Homo sapiens: one gene and its partner. The protein of the gene in region 2 purifies or fractionates together with the protein of the main gene of each other region. This does not show direct contact. Each region holds a gene or a part of one and is shown on either strand. Other genes may lie near its edges.

Region 1 (3,654 bases), on a different chromosome or scaffold from region 2:
TTTGAATTTCCTCATCTGAACTTGAAATATAATTATGTTATCTGACTTTCATTCTGGCCCCTAGGATCTCCTGAGACCCATCTCAGAAACCTGTAATATGTTTACAGGTACTTGGGTAATGCACCCTTTTGGAGAGAGATTCATAGAAGCCCAGAGGAAGGTTCTTGGTCTGACTGACAGGGACCCAGGGTCATTGTCAGAGTTTAGATTCTAGCCCATCTGCAACAGTGCCCACATCTGGCCAACAGCAAACCAGATGCCATGTTAGATGTCTTATACATATACTCCCGCAAGACTAATGACCCCCTCACTCCCACCAAAACAAGCTATGTAGTAAATACTTTTTTTAAAAAATACTAGTTGTTTATTTTCAAGGAAATATTTCCTCTCACTTTTTCTAATAACCAACTCTTATTTTAACTCTTCTGTGTCTCTCCATTGATTAGTTCAGCCATCCACACACACATTTGACCAGTCTCATCATGTCATTCCACTGTTTAAACCCTTTTATTGGCTTTCTTTTGCTCTTACAATACAATCCCAAATTCCAGAAATGGCTCACAAAGATGTGTTTCCAGCCCCTGCTTACCTTTCTTGCTTTATCTCTTACTATTCCCCTATTGATGAGTTTTTTGGGCATTGGTGAACTACTTAAAGTCTTCCATGGGCCATGTGCTCTCATGCTGCCGTGCTCATTCCCTCTACTCAGAATGCCATGGCCCCCTTTCTTCATCATATTACCCTTGCAGAACCCAGCTCAGGCATGTCCTCTTCCAGGAAACCTCCTTTCAGATGACTTCCTTCTGTGTTCTTATATCTTCCCTGTAAGTGCCTTTATTACAGTATTTGAGAAACTAGAAGGGTAGTTATCTCATTATGCTCTGTCTCCCTTATCATATGGTGACCCGCATAAGGGAAGGGACTCAGGCAGATTCACCTCTATTCCCCAGCACCTAGCACTGTGCCTGGCACTCCATACATAAATGCTGCTAAAATAATTGGCAGAGTGGGACTGTTTCTAGACCCCTCCAAATATGGCTTGGTGGGACAGCTCTTTATCTTCCATTTTTATGTGGTCATTCTCCTTACCATTTTAAGTAATATACTGAGGGGCTATAAATACCCCTTAACTAACACTGGTGTCCTCTGACAGCATGTTCTATGTTCAGAGAAATTCTGAGACAAAGGAAAGTACCAGTTGTGCACACAACCAGTGCTATCTGTTGATTTAAGATGTTTAAATATCTTAACATATTTCTGTTGTGCTTTATTTTTCTCAGTATATTCTAGGTTTTTTACTTTGCTCATTTCTCTTAAAGATATGAACTTCTTCACACCTTAAACTTTGATGCTGTCCGGCGACGTATGAGTGTAATTGTGAAGACTCAAGAAGGTACATGTCTGAAAAGCTTGAATTTTTCTCTTTGTTGATTTGTAGGCTTATTGGTTGATTCACTCTTTCAGGAAAGAGAATCATTTCATGTAGTAGTGTAGGATTAGTGAAAGTCATGCAAAGCAGTAGCTTTTGCATATGCTTTCATGTATTTTTTTAAGCACAGATGTTCTGTTTACCAAATTGTTAGTGACAGAACCCTTGTTATGACAGGGTGTGCCTTTTCTTGGTAGCAGAACCATATCCCTCTGCCTTGGGTGTTCGAACAGGAACTGAAAGGATGACTTTTATATGGTTCAGGGTACTGACCAGTCTACCAGTAATGTTTACATGCAGCCACCCAGCATAGTTGGATGGTTTGGGATTACTAGCAGCAGAATCCTTGAGTATAGGGAGTTGCTTGTTATCCCTCACTGACCTTCCTGGTTCCCCTACTGCTTGACACTCCCTGGAAACAGGTGAGGTAGAGAGGACTAAGGGCCTGGTTTCTGGGAAATGGCATTGCAGTTTCACTCCAGAGCTCAGGTTCTTTGTTGAGCAGAGTAAAGCTTGCCCTTTGCAGGGGAACTGGTACTGTAATCCTGGGCTCCCTCATGTCTTTGGAGGCACCATGGTGGTTTGCCTTCTGCTCAGATTCTGCAAGACCCATGGGCGAGCAATCCTGCTTTATTCGAAGGCTCTCAGATACGTGTGTGTGTGGTGTGCCGAGGTGGTTTGTTTTCTAAAAATTTTTGATTTATTTCCCAGTAATTTACGTTTTACTATTAAATTTTCTAAATTCCTTAATGTCAGAATGGGAGGATACAGACAGATCCTTGGGGGAACATATCCCACTTAATTCATACTTTGTGGTGTGATTGCAAAGTCATGAAATTGATTTTAATAAGTGACCATGGAGTTTGTTTTGTGAATTTTAAAATACACTTTGGATGTGTAAGAATAAATGAAAAAAAAAACACAACATTTCAAATACTTGCTATTCTTATGTGTGCATGTCCACATGTTCTACAGCAAATGGTGAAATGTCTGTGGAACTGGTCTACAAAGGTCATTGACCTCAGAGCTACACTTTTTAATTTGTTGACCTCGGTTGTTTCCCTTATAAGGATAAAGTGTCTGTCTTAGTGCACAACTGTGAATATTTCCTGGGTGTGTGAAGTGATCTAAAGCTGCAATTATACCAGCATTCTACAAAGCTATTCTCATCAGTAAAAACTATCAAGCCATTGTTTTAGAAGCTAGTTAATATAGTTTATTCAAAATTATTTCAGCTTGTTTGAGCTTGAGCTTTCTTCTTGACATCTGTAGATGCCATATGTGTGCTCTAGGCCATGGCTTCACTGCATTTTTTTTTTTTTAAGACACGGTATTACTCTGTCATCTAGGCTGGAGTGGCAAGATTATAGCTCACTGCAGCCTTGACATCCTGGGCTCAAGCAATCCTTCCACCTCAGCATCCAGCGTAGTTGGGTCTATAGGTGTGTACCACCATGCCTGGCTAATTTTTTAATTTTTAGTAGAGTCAGGGTCTCCCTGTGTTGCCCAGGCTGGTCTTGAACTCCTGAGCTTAAGTGATCCTCCCACTTCAGCCTCCCACAATGCTGGGATTACAGGCATGAGCCACTGCACCTGGCATACATTTTCAGAAGAAATTCAGATGCAGCTCCTTGACACAAGCCCAGCCCTCCATGAATTGGTGGGAGGAAGTATATTTTAACAGAGGTGCCTATTGTAAACTCTGGCTTATTAATTGTGTTCATAATGACCTTGAAGAGGTGGTACATGCCTTTCTGACAGACTGAAGGCCAAGATTTCTCATTCCATTTAGGTGAGTATTGCAAGGTGTGCTCAGAATATACAACACTTGGGTGAGAGAGACCGCTTTAAAAGTTACTCTTACTAAAACCACAATACCAGCCTTAAAATTCTAAGTCAAGTACTATGGTTCTTTATTTTAGGAGACATACTTCTCTTTTGTAAAGGAGCAGACTCGGCAGTTTTTCCCAGAGTGCAAAATCATGAAATTGAGTTAACTAAAGTCCATGTGGAACGTAATGCAATGGTGAGCCTATACTCCTTCCCCCACCAATAAGTAAGCAGAGAAATGTTGAAAATGACTATGTTTATTGGATTTCTGTTTAAATGACAGTTTAAATACATTTTAGCTTATTTTTGTGGTCTATGTTTTGTATTTGGGGATTTGATAATATTACTTTTTTTTATCTTAATATAAAACATTTTCCTGGAGCAAGTTTCAGGTC
Region 2 (3,754 bases):
TCCAGGGCTCAAGCAATCCTCCTGAGTAGCTGGGACTATAGGCATGTGCCACAACATCAAGCTAATTTTTGCATTTTTTTGTGGAGACGGGATCTCCCTATGTTGCTAAGGCTGGTCTTGGATTCCTGGGCTTATGCGATTCTCCTGCCTCAGCCTCCCAAAGTCCTGGGATTACAGGCATGAGCCACTGCCCCTGGCCATTATAACTATTTTCATTGGCTTATCAGGCACATGATAACTATAATAAATCAATAACCAGAATTTTTAAATAAAGAAAGGAAGGAATTGTTTCAACTCTTCCTGCTACCCCTCTATCCCTCAAAAGGGTAGGCTGAATGTTGTCCTCCAAAGATATCCATGTCCTAATCCCCAGAACCTGTAAATATATTACCTTATATGACAAAAGGGACTTTACATGTTTAATAAGTTAAGAATTTTGAGATGGGCAGATTTTCCTGAATTTTGCAGATGGGCCCTAGTGTAATCACAAGGGTCCTTATAAGAGACAGGCAGAAGAGTCAGAATAAGAGAAAAATACTTCAAGATGTTACACTGCTGGCTTTAAGGTGGAGGAAAGGCCAAGAGCCAAAAAATGCAGTGGTCACTACAAGCTGAAAAGAAAAAGAAATGGATTTTCCCCTAAAGCCTCTGGAGGGGGCACAACCTTGCCAATACCTTGATTTTGGCTCAGTGAAACCCATTTTGGACTTCTGACCTTTAGAATTGTAAATAAATAAATAATTTTGTGTTGTTTCAAGCCATCACAGTTGTGGTAATTTACTACAACAGCAATAAAATAGAATTAAATACAGAGATCTGAGGAGTTGAGTAGGATAAGCCTACTCCAGCAGGTTATTTCGGGAGTATGGTGAGACTCACTAGGATGGCGGAACTCAATTAAGGAAGTCTGAAGCTGATAAGCCAGAGAGGGAAGGCTCTCATTTCATTTTATAAGGGTTGCGTCACACTAGGAAGATCCAATAGCAACCACAGTCTCAAAATTAATGATTACAAATAGGACACAATTCCAAGAGTCGGGAGCCAAGCAGAAAATGGATTAGGGAAGACATGGATGATATGAAACAGGAAGGAGGGGTACAAGGCAGCTTCCTGGGAAGTTGCCAGGGCAGTCACAGTTCACATTCATTAGGCTGTGGGCACCAAATGCATATGGAAAATCTAGCTGACTTAACTGAACTCCTGAAGAGGAATGAACACCTCATTTATTGAGGAGCTACTACCAATTAGAATATGTATTTCATTTGTTCAATAACCCCATGAGTACAGTAACACAATCCTTGCTTTACTAAAGCGGAAGCCAATTCAAAGAGGTTCAGTGACTTGTCCAAGCTCAGGGAAAACACTAGGAAGTGAATATGGGTCTGACTCCATCACTGATTTCAGGAGCCCTGCCCTTTCCTCCACACCATGCCCCCTTGCTTTCAGAAAAAAAGGCTTGTTGACTGAATGGTTGTATGCACAGTTCAAAGCAGAAACACACGATGACATCTTTTGAGATACTCTAACAGTGAGAACTTGAAAATGAAGTTAAAAATTAAGCGGCAAAACCAAGCCGAGGCTTTCTGAGAAAGTGGGGCCAAACCTGTTGCCGTCTGACTGCCACGTGGCTCACTATTTATCCCTGTAAAAATCTGCAAAAGTATTTGAAAGGGAAGAAGGGACAGAAAACTCCCTCCTTTTCCAAGTTAGCCTTATAGTCTAGGGCTTAAAATACTGGTTTAATGGTGAAGGTAAGTGCTTTTCTTCTTTTTGGGTAGAAGGATTATTACTAACTTACCAAAGGTCCATTAAGGGGAGGGAACAGTTTTAGGAGAAGTCAGAGAAAAGACATTAACAGCAACATAAGGATCTCCATCTGGTAATATTGCCTAATTCCAAAATGAAGAGACTCTCTGAAAAAGATAACTGATTCAATGAAGACCCTAGGGCAAGGCTTGAGAAGCCACTGGTACCAATGGACACTGTGGACAATGGTCATTTCTCCAAGGACGCTGTGAGTATTAACTGTGATGCTGTGATTAGTCAGACTGGGATTGGCTGTGGAATGAAATACTGATCAGAACTGACAAGATTTGTGTTTGGGACTGTGGCTAACGAGTCTTTTCAGACTTCTATATGAATTTGAAATGGTCTCTCAGGAAAAGGAGAACATGGCCGGGCCTGGTGGCTCACGCCTGTAATCCCAGCACTTTGGCAGGCTGAGGCGGGCAGATCACTTGAGGTCAGGAGTTTGAGACCAGCCTGGCCAACATGGTGAAACCCTGTCTCCACTAAAAATACAAAAATTAGCAGGGCGTAGCGGCGCGTGCACCTATGCGCATGCATAGTGCGCGTGCCAGCTATTCAGAAGGCTGAGGCAGGAGAATTGCTTGAACCCAGGACGTAGAGGTTGCAGTAGTTGAGATCATACCACTGCACTCCAGCCTAGGTGACAGAGTAAGACTCTGTCTCAAAAAAATAATAATAATAAAAGAAAAGGAGAACATGACCAAAGTTATGAATAAGACTGAAGGCAAGAAAATTGTACGCTTGTAGAGATCACCTAGCTTGTTGCCCTCATTGTACAGCTAAGAAAAGGCACCCAGGGACATTGTGGTCAGCACCAATTTCTCAGAAAGATAGGCAGATGATGAGAGGGCCCTCAGTTTTTCTAACACTGAAGGAATTGCTTCTATGTTTTCTGGTGAACTCCTCCCCACTCATCTTGAGGATTCCAGGCCAGAAGAATCCACTTTAAAAAAGAAACATTTAAAACCAATTTAACAACCAATCAAAGGCACTTTTATAGAAATACATTTCATTTGCTGTAGGCCTGTATTTATGGATCTGAGAGGGCTAGACTGCCAATATTGTGACTGTTTATTATTATTGCTGTTGCTAGTATCTAGAATATTATACAACATATAACACTTTGCAATTTACGAGGCATGTCTCATACTTTTGTTTTCACTCCAAACTGCCCAGTGAAGTAACATTATCCCAATTCTTCCTATGAAACAGTGAAAGCCCTAAGAGTTTTTGAAACTTTACCTGGTTTACTCAATTTGGGAATGGCAGAGCAGAATTCAGTCCTTGAATATCCTCCCACTGCAGGTTCATGCTCTTTGATCTAGGTGTAACATTTACTCTGAGTAAACTAGGACTCTGGGCTAACAGAGATGAAGCAAGACAGGCTGGATATTAGGAGAATCTAAGAGCAATCTAACGACCATTATAATAAAATCATGAGTTCTAGACTTAAAAAAAGGGAAAAACCTGTTTTTTTGCTTATGCGTATACCATAATATTTACATTATTTATTTTTTTCTCAAATTCAACCTATACTGTGTCAAGTAATTTTTTTTAATATAACATTTTCCTTTAACTTAATTTCAATTCATTTTTCTGTGTCTACTTACAACTTTGGCACTAGAATTCACAATTTTTTTTTAGAGGTATATCTCCTTAAAGGGAAGGGTTCTGACACTGTTACATGTTCTCAATTGTTTGCAAATAGGTTAATAATTATTCCAGTGTCTCTAAGTACATATCAACCATGCCAGTGTTCAGCCTCCATAATTTTATTAGCTTCTGTGCTTATTTTGGAAAAACATTTCCCATTACCATGAAAGACCTCAGTTTAGGATGGTTTGGTATGTTAGCCTGATTTCTGCATTCGTCTCATGCAAAGGAAAATAGGAAACGAAGAACTGAAATTACCTATTGATACAAAATCAAAGTAGCATTTGAAACC

What was found. The genes of interacting proteins can lie anywhere in the genome.
Region 1: the proteins of SLC17A2 (region 2) and ATP11C purify together in Homo sapiens (affinity purification with mass spectrometry; 2 studies listed by BioGRID and IntAct, with this or other methods). This does not show direct contact.

What each region holds. Positions count from the first base shown.
Region 1 is NC_000023.11:139,782,965-139,786,618, reverse strand, and holds part of ATP11C (phospholipid-transporting ATPase IG), read left to right. Parts: intron 1-1,319; coding exon 1,320-1,393; intron 1,394-3,351; coding exon 3,352-3,455; intron 3,456-3,654. UniProt on the Homo sapiens protein: Catalytic component of a P4-ATPase flippase complex which catalyzes the hydrolysis of ATP coupled to the transport of aminophospholipids, phosphatidylserines (PS) and phosphatidylethanolamines (PE), from the outer to the inner leaflet of the plasma membrane.
Region 2 is NC_000006.12:25,928,537-25,932,290, reverse strand, and holds the start of SLC17A2 (sodium-dependent phosphate transport protein 3), read left to right. Parts: upstream 1-1,599; 5' UTR 1,600-2,014; intron 2,015-3,754. UniProt on the Homo sapiens protein: Acts as a membrane potential-dependent organic anion transporter, the transport requires a low concentration of chloride ions. Mediates chloride-dependent transport of urate. Can actively transport inorganic phosphate into cells via Na(+) cotransport.